Regions from separate parts of the Homo sapiens genome. Here region 2 is linked to region 1. Evidence: fine-mapped expression QTL. A gene starts in region 1. The other region holds a variant in brackets. All regions are shown on one strand. Distances are from middle to middle.

Region 1 (5,532 bases):
TAGGAATATACAGTTGGTGGGCGCAGCGGCTCACGCCTATAATCCCAGCACTTTGGGAGGCTGAGGTGGGCAGACCACTATGTCAAGAGATCGAGACCATCCTGGCCAACATGGTGAAGCCCCATCTCTACTAAAAATATAAAAATTAGCTGGGCATGGTGATGCACACCTGTAGTCCCAGGTACTTGGGAGGCAGAGACAGGAGAATCGCTTGAACCCAGGAAGTGGAGGCTGCAGTGAGCCAAGATTGCACCACTGCACTCCAGCCTGGGTGACAGAGCGAGACTCCATCTCAAAAAAAAAAAACAAAAACCAAACAGTTAAATCCCAGAAGTAAAACCTAAAAGTTTACACAGAGAAGCCTGGTTTGGGAGGGGGAAGAGGGACACAGGGAATATGAGTGGTTACTGAGGAGTTGGGCAGCCTATTGCTATTTTTTGGTAGCACTTTTAGTACTATTTGAATTTTAAAACTACATATTACTGTGGTATAAATACAATTTAAAGCTCAAACAAGATTCTGAACTGGCCAAAGCAAATGTCTCAACGGCTCATTCAGTTTTAAATCTCAGAAACTGGAAAAATCCCACCAGTCAATCAGACACCTGGGTTCAGCTCTAGATTTGCTGGTTAACTAACTGGTCAATGTATGCTTGATCACATGACTTAACCACTGTTCCTCCATTTTTTCATCTGTAAAAGTAGGTTATAATCTCTCTCATCTGTGAAAAAGCTCTCTGAGCTACAAATAAGTGGAATTAACCATCCTCTAGCATTCTATAGCTAAATATATTGAGGGCTGGGCAGGGCCAGGCATTCTGATGCTTACGCTAGGGGAAGATCTTTGAACACCTGACTTCCCTGGGAGACCAAGAGCGCCACACAGTGACTTGAAAGGGCCAGGACTGCCCTGTAACATGGATGCCCACAATGCAGGGTCTCTATCCTGCATCCCCTGCCCTGCTAAGGGGAAAAGTCGTTCAGAGCGGGCCACACTGGAAAAAGAGCAGGCCAGGTCCCAACATAGGAATTTATCTCACATCAAACCTCCCAGAAGGTTAATTATAAAAAGGATTTTAATTCTTTGAGGAACTTTTCTTATATGAATTATGTTTTTTAAAAGTAGACAAATTAAACTCTACTTGAGCAAAGAACTGTTTTCAAAGAGGGCACCCCCATAACCAGAATAGGTCCAGAGCAATTCTCAGGCTGCCACCTGGTGGGATAACATTTATGGACAGGAAAAGGAAAGTGATGTACAGAAAAGCAAATGAGGTAGAGAAATAGCTGGATTCCATACAGCCTGGCGTTTGCCTTCTTTGAACAGGGTTTCAAAGGCTGACCACCTGTGACGGCCTGAAAATCAGCTGCTGTGATTGTCTGAGACTCAGGTACTTATAACAGTAGGTTACAGTCTGTTTACACATCTACTTAGGTTACAGTTCACTAAGTACAGAGAAACTTTTAGGCTAAACTTAAAATATTCAAGGAGGCAGCGTTAGGCTATACTTAACACCTACTTAGCACAGGTAACTAGAAGTGGCTAAAACAGAAACGAATTCTTGAATAACTGAGTGAATGCCACACTTAGAAAAGGTTGTTTTATGCAGCTAATTATAGAATCACGGACAAGAACTGAAAGAGTTGCTGCCTGAACTTTCCACTCGAGGTCTGTGTTAGAATTTAGGAAACGCCACCCTGATAAATGACTGCAAAAGACAAGAATGCACCATCCCCAAACATGCCACCCTGGCATATTGATGACTTTGAGCTATAAGTAACAGAACCAAACAACACAGGATAACTTATTCAGCTACCCCTCAACTGCCTAAAATAAAGTATGACTGCTTTTTTTCCTTTTGTTCTTATTATTTTTCGACTCGCCTGTTGTAAACAGAAATTTACACCTATAAAGGAAATTTTCTGTAGTAAATGTATCTGTATCAGGAAGACAGCTGCTTGGGGGCAACTTTTATCGCCTGAGCGCCTCATCGGGATAACAAAGCAACCTTTATTCACCATACATTTCCCCCATCACCCTTCCAAAAGGTCTCCACCACGCCCCAAAAGGCCCACGCCCCTATTCCCTGGCCCTTCTTTGTCTCCCACTTTTGTGGCCCTCTAGTGCACGGGTACATAATTAAAAGTTTTTCTCCTGTTAATCTGTCTTATGACAATTTAATTTGTGGCCCAGCTTAAGAACTTAGAAGGGTAGAGGGAAACCATATTTCCTTCCCCTACATTTGAATCTTCTTTACACCACACTCTCCCGGGTCATTTGGACTCTCCTGGAACCCCCTGGAGCTAGGGAAGCGCAGGGCCTCCCAAGTCAGATTCTGCTTGGTGCCGAGCGGCAGTTGGCTCCCTGAACGCCCCGCCAGGAGGATGGACTTCAAGTCCTTGACCGCGGCGCCCGACATCGGTCGCCCGCACCAGGCTCCTGCCGGGCCCAGCCCCCCTGCCTGCTCGCGGGGGCTCGGAGGACCCGGCCTAGCGCCCACCGCGGCGTCCCGCGCCCCGGGCCCCTGGCTTCAGAAGACTGGCCGCGCGCGGACGGCAGCTCGGGACTCACAAGGACTCCAGGTGCTTGAGCTGCTGCAGCTGCTGCGCGTCGTGTCGCCGCCGCTTCTGCTCCCGACGTCGCTGCAGCTCCTGCTCCGGCGGCTCACGCGGCCGCCGCGCGCCCGCAGCCCCCACGTCCTCGCGCCCAGGCCGGGACGACATGTCAGCCCCCGCAGCGCCGCTCGGGCAACCCCCGCGGCGCGGCTCCGGCGGCGGCGGCGGCGGCGGCGGCAGCCAAGAGAGCACTTCCTCCGCGCGGCGGTCGCGGGGCTTCGCAGCGCCCCCTCCCGCCGCCGCCCCGCAACTCACCCCGGCGGCCCCGAAGTCTCAGCCTCGGCCACCCGATCCCCGCCTCCCCGCGTCGGGCCCCAAGTCAGGGGCTCCGGGTCTCGGGCCCAGCCGCCAGGCGGGCTGCTGCGGGTGGGTGGGGAGCGCCGCCTAGCTGGAGCCGAAGCGGGGCGAGGCGCTAGTTGGGAGCCTGGAGGTTCCCGCCCGGCCACACCCACCTCAGGTATACTAGCAACAGTCACATAGGGATGAGCAGATGAAATGTATTCATAAAAAAATGTTCAAATTAGCCAGGCGTGGTGGCGGGCGCCAGTAGTCCCAGCTACTTGGGTGGCTGAGGCAGGAGAATTGCTTGAACCCAGGAGGCAGAGGTTGCAGTGAGCCGAGATGGTGCCCCTGCACTCCAGTCTGGGCGAAAAAGCGAGATTGTCTCTCAGAAAAAAAAAAAAAAAAGTGTTCAAAAAGTGAAATGTATAAACATATAATTATGTTCGGTAATAGTGTGCACCCAGCTTTATAACTGCGGTCATCTGATATACCATGAGAGACAACCTAACTCTTTTGACAGGATGGGTCACCATGACGTCACCACTGTGCCAGTCACCCGAGGAGCCAAGATCCTGAGAAATTTCATCTTTCACAAATGCAGATGTACAGAAAAGACACTTATTTATTTATCGAGGAAATTTCTACATTTTTGCATATATGTAGAATGCTTACACAGTCACCATTGTAATAATGAGCTTTGATTGAGTCATATTTGCAAAAAATGCATAAAACAAATTTGAACTCTCTAAAAGTCTTTATATAGTTGATGCCTCCAGTATTAGAAATGATGTTAAGATGTAATACATAGCATAGTGAATTGTAAAACATAATGCTGACAATTTACAATAATGAAAAAGCTAAAAGAGAAAATAGAAAAACGAAAGCAAACTAAAAAGAAAATTCAACATAGAAAAAGTGTATTGCAGGGATAGATTATGGGCAATTGCATGGCGATTGTCCACATGAACTGCCCAACTTTTATGATGATTAACATATTTTGAAGTCTTGCATCATGATGAATAGCTTTTTTTTTTTTCTTTTAGGACATGGCTCTCCTCGATGATACAGTCTCATTAATTTTCTATGTGATACTGCTCTTTCCAAAATTCTTTTTAACTTTTTAAAGTTTTTTATTTTGTAGAGACGGGGTCTCGCTATGCTGCTTAGGCTGGCCTTGAACTCCTGGCCTCAAGCAATCCTCCTGCCATAGCCTCCCAAAACACTGGGATTACAGGTGGGAATCACTGCACCTGACTATGAAATTATTTTGTGATTTGATATTCTCTGACTTCTCTTTGTGCTTTCTTTCTGTTGTACCCTCCTGTCCATGAACCCCTCTGTTTTTCATTTTATTCTTCTGCCCCCTCCTAAGACACCAGAGATTCATTCTTGAGGCCAGTCAAGCAGCCTTGGTGTTGGCCCACTGGTGGGGCAGCTGCAGTTGGTCCTTAGTCTGTGCTACTGGACAGGTTTTAAACCTTTCAGAATGGAGCAACTAAAAAAAGAATAGATTTTCTCCTGCTTGTATTGATCACCCTTCACAGTGTAATCTTGACACCATTGTTTTGCTGCTAAGGTGTATTTTTACAAGCTCTTATCTTACCAGTGACCTTTCCCCACTGGGGAGATGAGGAGAGGAAAAAAGTAGGAGAAGGGAAAGATCACATGGCTAGATTAGAGAGTACAATGCAAAATCTTTCTTTTTTTCCTACCCAAAATACAAGTCTTCAAGGAACTCTCATGGTGAAGTGGACCCTCAGGCGTGCATGTCTATGGTCTTCTGCAGCGCAGTAGAAACATGAGAATCCCTTTGGTCATGCACTAAAAACAGCTGTTAAAATTACTTCTAGGGCCAGGCATGGTGGCTTGTGCCTGTTGTCCTAGGTATTTGTGGAGCTTAGGTGGGAGGATTGCATGAACCCAGGAGGTGGAGGCTACAGTGAGCCATGATCGTGTCACTGCACTCCAGCCTGAGTGACAGAGTGAGCCCCTGTCTCAAAAAAAGAAAAATTATTTCTATCCATCAATAGTTGCTAACCAGTAGGATCGGAGGGAAAATTGCAACGTGCTTTACTTTAGGCTTGCAGGTACGAAAGACTGAGGGAGGAAGGTCAGACACCAAACTTAATTGGTATTCTGGGGCAAATATTTGGCAACTGAGTTGACATTTCTCCTTCTCTTCCTTGCTACCAGCTTTGATTTTGTTCAGGAATCATACAGGAAGCTGGTTAGAGAGTGGAGGCCTCTTCATGCCTCTCTAGAGGTGAGTCTTGACTTGTCTTAAGCCAGTCATTAGTAATTTTGTTCTCGTTTCCACTGATTGTTTTAGCAATGGACCTGTGGTGCAATTTTAGCCAATGAGGTATGAGGAGAGGTCGGATGGAGGTGGCTTTCAGGGTAAGGTTGTCTTTGCTCTTAATAAATGATGCTTGGGAGTGTCAAAGATCCCCTTTCTGCCTCCAGATGTTGTTGCCTGCAACCCCCAGAGGATGGCAGAGGACAGAAGGAGACCCCTGGGTCCTTGGGGATGTGATAGAGACATTTGATCAACCAGTCCTGGTGTTGCTACCTATCCATACTTCTCATTCTGGGAGATAGTACATTTCTTTATTATTGAAGTGATTTTGAGTTGGGT
Region 2 (5,000 bases), 260 kb after region 1:
TTGGACATTGGCAAAGATGACAGTGAAAGTGGATAGCTTTTGCTGAGTGTAATTTCAGTAGGCAGAAAGGTGTAGTAACTATATAGTCAAGTTTGAATTTAAATATGCTTTATTGATTTGGTTGCTTTATGTATGCGAGAATAATAGTCGAAACTAGTCAATGTAAAACTAGCTCTTGACATATGTAGTATACTGAAGCTACTGAGCTTACTGAGTTATACACACCTTCATGGGAATAAAGTAAGATATTAAGAAAGGAAGTATTTAACGAATCTGTATTGAGAGAAAAAAGTACACACACACACACACACACACACACACACACACACACACCCATACCCCCTTGAAATAGTCTGGCTCAGGACATTCCAATTAAAAAAAAAACTCTAGTTTTTCTGGTGAGCTTTCACTTTCTACCCATGCATTTGCAGTTGTAGTTGGTTATTGCTTTTCTAATAATAAGAGTACAATAAGGCCATCTGTTTTTGAAAAAGAAAAGTATTAGCAGGAGGAACAGACATCCCATTTAGAAACTGTAACAATGTTTTTATGGCTAAAATCATAATAGTTTCTGGAATATGTCAATTGGTGACTGGTAAAATAGACTCAGATACTATTGAAGACTCAATAATAGGTCACAGAAATAACAACTCTGAGAAGAAAGAGGAGATTCTTTATTTTCATGATTTTTCTGATTGGTCATGATTGCAGTATTCTTTACATTGGCATCATTTTTTAAAAAACAAATCATTTTATTTTGATAAGAAGACTTAACATGAGATCTATCCACTTAAAATTTCAAATGTATAGTTCAATATTGCTAACTGTAAGTACATAGCACCATTTTGCTTTGATTAGCTTTAATCTCCAGTTGGATGGTAGAACCATTTTGGTGCATTTCTCTTAGTTTAACAGTTATCCTTGGTTAAACTAAAAAAGTTATGCCAACATTTCTTTGGGAAATTGTACACATTTGTTTGACTGCAGTTGATGGTGCCATATAATGAATCTGCAAATGAGACCATTAAAAAAGGCAAAAATTTTTGCAAATGAATATATTTATATCCTAATGTATTTTATTTATAACTTTTAATATAAAGTAACAAGTAGAACCCTGATGTTGCCCACGATTACCTTACTGCTATCTAAATTTTACCAAAAATCAATTATATATCTGATTTATTCTCTTTGTCTGAATGTATGGCAATTCCCTGACTTAGCATAGTGTAGGTACACAAAATCAAATAATGGAATAGGACAGGACCTTTTAAACAAGGAGCCAAATAAACTGTGTAAATTGAAACCTGAATAATAGTCATTACAATTCTATGATGGTTTTTGGCTACAGTGACACACAGAATCCTACCTAGGAGATGCCTATGGTGATGGAGAGAGATAGGTATAAGGAGAGTGTACTTTTCTGAGATTGAGGCAGATGTTGGTGCTCCTACTGCTTTATCAGAGTATTCATTCCTAAGAAAGGAATGAAGTAATTTGTACCCAATCTGTGTTTGACATTTTTCATTTTTTGAAAGGTACCTAGTATTAATTGTAGTCCAGCAATCTGCTTTACAGAAAAATCCTACAAATGAAAGAACCTAGTATTTCTTCCATAGTAAACAGTCAAATGATTCATAAGTCACATAGAATTGTCCTTGACTCTTGGATAGTATTTTCTGTGGGTTCCGTGTATTCATCTCTTTTTAAAACCTGCTTGGTAATCAACCAAGCCTTCATGTATGCTGTATGGCGATTTTAGTTCCTTTTTCTGATTCAGTATAGACCAGTCAAAGCAAACAAGAGAAAAGTAAGGTGTAGCTCATTGTCTCAGACACCAAACCAAATTCCCTGGGGAACTGAGTAGGATTATATTTTTAGAAAGCAGAATAGTAGCTGGGTGTAGCAGCTTACCCCTTTAATCCCAACACTTTGGGAGGCCAAGGTGGGAGGATCGCTTAAGCCTAGCAGTTCAAGACCAGCCTGGGCAACATAGTGAGACCTAGTCCCTATTTAAAAAAAAAAAAAGAAAAGAAAAATTAGCCAGTTGTGGTGGCACATGAATGTAGTCCCAGCTATTCTGGAAGCTGAGGTGGGAGGATCACTTAAGCCCAGGAGGTTGAGGCTGCAGTGAGCTGAGATTGCACTACTGCACTCCAACCTGCGCAACAGAGTGAGACCCTGTCTCAAAAAAAAAAGTAGTGCTTAAATTTGGGAAAAATATGCTAGCAACATTTCTGAAAACTGTTATCACAGTCCTAAATTAAAAATAACGGGAAAGTTCTACTTTTGTGAGATCAAATGTTTTTATAATTAATATTGCAAAATATTTCTGCGTGGATGTCTATAATTTCGAGTGATTCAGTATAATGGGATTTCAGAAAAATATGCTATTATGTAAATACGTGTATATTCTTACGCTGCTTTCCTAAGGTCCAGATCCACATAGTGACTTATTACCATATACAACAAACACTGCTAGCTCTCTCTCCCCAGTCTCTCCTGCCCCTTTCTGTTTCTGTACTTTTCTTGGTCTTGCCTCTCTCTGGTTCTGTTTTTATCTTTTGTCTCTATTTGTACATTGCCTTGTTCTACTTGCTTCTTAAAGAATTTAGAAGAGTTTAAAAGTATCCAAAATATGAAAAGAGAAAATAAGTATTTCAAGAAATCAGAAAGAGAAAATCAGAGC[A/G]GGAAACTAATAAAGGTAGAAATAAGATTAATACTCAGAAATACATACTGTATGATCAAAAAGGTGCTAGTCACCTAAAATAATAAGAAATCATTTTGTTTCCATTTTCAGAGTGTTCAAAATATTAAACCTTTTGTTGAGGAGATGCACACCCTTTACTGATGCTGAGTCAAAGATGAAATTTCGCTTATGAATATTCAAAAAGACAGTTCCTTTAATAATATCTCTATAGTTTATATAATTATAAAGATTATGCTTAAGTAATTATGAGAAACAAATTTCACAGAACTTTAGAAAATAATGATAAAACTCCATTTATTAAATATAATTCTCCCTGAGCCCAAATCAGTGTGGTCTAAGCTGCAGCCTGATCCAAGGATAAATTTTGAGTATCTAGTTTTGCAAGTTTTCAGTATCTAGTGTTTTCAATAAGGATTGAGCAACCAATTTCAGTAACTCAGAATTGAGATGTAGGATGAAGGAGGTGTGTATTTTGTTTTTAAATGAGCAATATTAGAACATGTTTGAACATTAATTTAAATGATTGAGTTCAGTGGGAGAGGTTGATGATCAGGAAAGAGAAGTGGATCATAAGTCCGTGAAGAAGAGAGAGGGGATGGGATGCAGAAGCTTGCGGGAGGGTTTGAGGAATAGGCCTTTGTAACTTCTCTGTAACAGGAGGGATCGTATGTACACCTAGGGAGACTTTGTAGATTTGTTAGTGGAGAGATAAAGGAGCTTTGATAATGTATAAATCTGAAAAAAAATAGTGAGAAAATAAGAAAGCAAACTCATGAGGGAAATAGGCATTGTGGAATTTCCATCTAGAGTTTGAGATCCTACATTTTGAATTGAAACCAGCCATCCTTTTTAGGTGATTTTCCCTGGAAGTGATTTGTTTATCAGCATCTAAGCAACTAAAAACAGGGCTCAGATTTTAAAACAGAATTACAGATAAAATGTTTTTAATGAGACTGATTATCATAATGGACTACCAAATCTGAGATGGTAAGGAAATCGGTGACGATTAGAGAAAACTGATACATGGTGAAAAATTAATGGGTTCACCTGATCAAAATTCTTGAAAGTTTGAGGAAGTAAAGTAGTAGGAGTTATAGAGCAAGTGAACTAGGTTAAAAAATAAAAGGGAAAAAAAAGGTAGTGGTCAGAGAATGGATCAGATATTGAGAACAAGAGTTCAGAGAGATTGCAGATTCTGATAATGGCAAGCTCATCACTGGGGGACTGGATTGCTAAAGTGGAGAGAAGACCAATGGGGACAAAGATTTCAAGAAAATGAGGTATCACAGTTGTGGATATTGAAAAGGCCTGTTTGTATTGAGGTACATTCCTTGTGTACCTAATTTATTGAGTTTTTTTAAAATCATGAAAGGATGTTGAATTTGTCAAATGCTTTTTCTGCATCTATTGAAATGATCATATGGTTTTTGCCCTTCATTCTGTTAATATGATGTATCATGCTTATTGATTTGCTTATGTTAAACCATCCTTGCATCCCTGGAATCAATCCCACTTGATCATGGTGAATGATCTTTTTAATGTGCTGTGTTGAATTTGGTTTGCTAGTATTTTGTTGAGGATTTTTGCATCTTTGTTCATCAGGGATACTGGCCTGTAGTTTTCTTCTTTTGTTATGTCCTTATCTGATTTTGTTATCAGGATAATGTTGGCCTCATAGATTGAAATTTGAAAGTATTCCATTCTCTTTGATATTTTGGAATAGTTTGAGTAGAATTGTTATTAGTTCTTCTTTAAATGTTTGATGGAATTCAGCAGTGAAGCCCTCAAGTCCTGGGCTTTTCTTTGGTAGGAGACTTTGTATAACTGATTCAATCTTCTTACTCGTTATTGCTCTGTTCAGATTTTCTATTTCTTCCTAGTTCAATCTTGGTAGGTTTATGTATCCAGGAATTTATCATTTCTTGTAAGTTATCCAGTTTGTTGGCATATAGTTGTTCATAACAGTTTAATGATTCCTTGTATTTCTGTAGTATCAGATGTAATTTCTACTTTTTCTTTTATTTGAGTCTTCCTTCTTTTTTTTTAGTCCAAAGGTTTGTTCAATTTTCTTTATCTTTTCAAAAAACCAGCTCTTTGTTTTGTTGATCTTTTGTATTGTTTTGATGCTTAGCACAATGAATGAGAAAGTACACGCACACTCTCTCTTTCTCTCTCCCTCTCAGACAAAGCATTGTGGAATTTTAGAGCACTGAGGAGCGTATTCTTAAAGATTAGAAAGAAAAAAAACAAGTTACTCAAGATATGAATCAAGATGGCATTTAGCTTTTCATCA

The links. PIP is the estimated chance that this variant, and not a neighbour inherited with it, causes the effect.
Region 2: its variant is fine-mapped to the expression of RP9 in whole blood (INTERVAL, PIP above 0.99).

Annotation. Positions count from the first base shown.
Region 1 is chr7:33,106,650-33,112,181 of GRCh38, forward strand. It overlaps RP9 (RP9 pre-mRNA splicing factor), which reads right to left and starts at 2,755. Exons shown (of 6, transcript NM_203288.2): 1 at 2,572-2,755. The coding sequence starts at 2,723. RefSeq lists silencers at 2,411-2,640, 2,651-3,130.
Region 2 is chr7:33,368,285-33,373,284 of GRCh38, forward strand. The region is part of intron 17 of BBS9 (Bardet-Biedl syndrome 9); the gene reads left to right. Among named protein-coding and RNA genes, the nearest start is that of BBS9, 240 kb to the left of the region's middle. The variant A/G (reference allele first, on the strand shown) is at 2,687.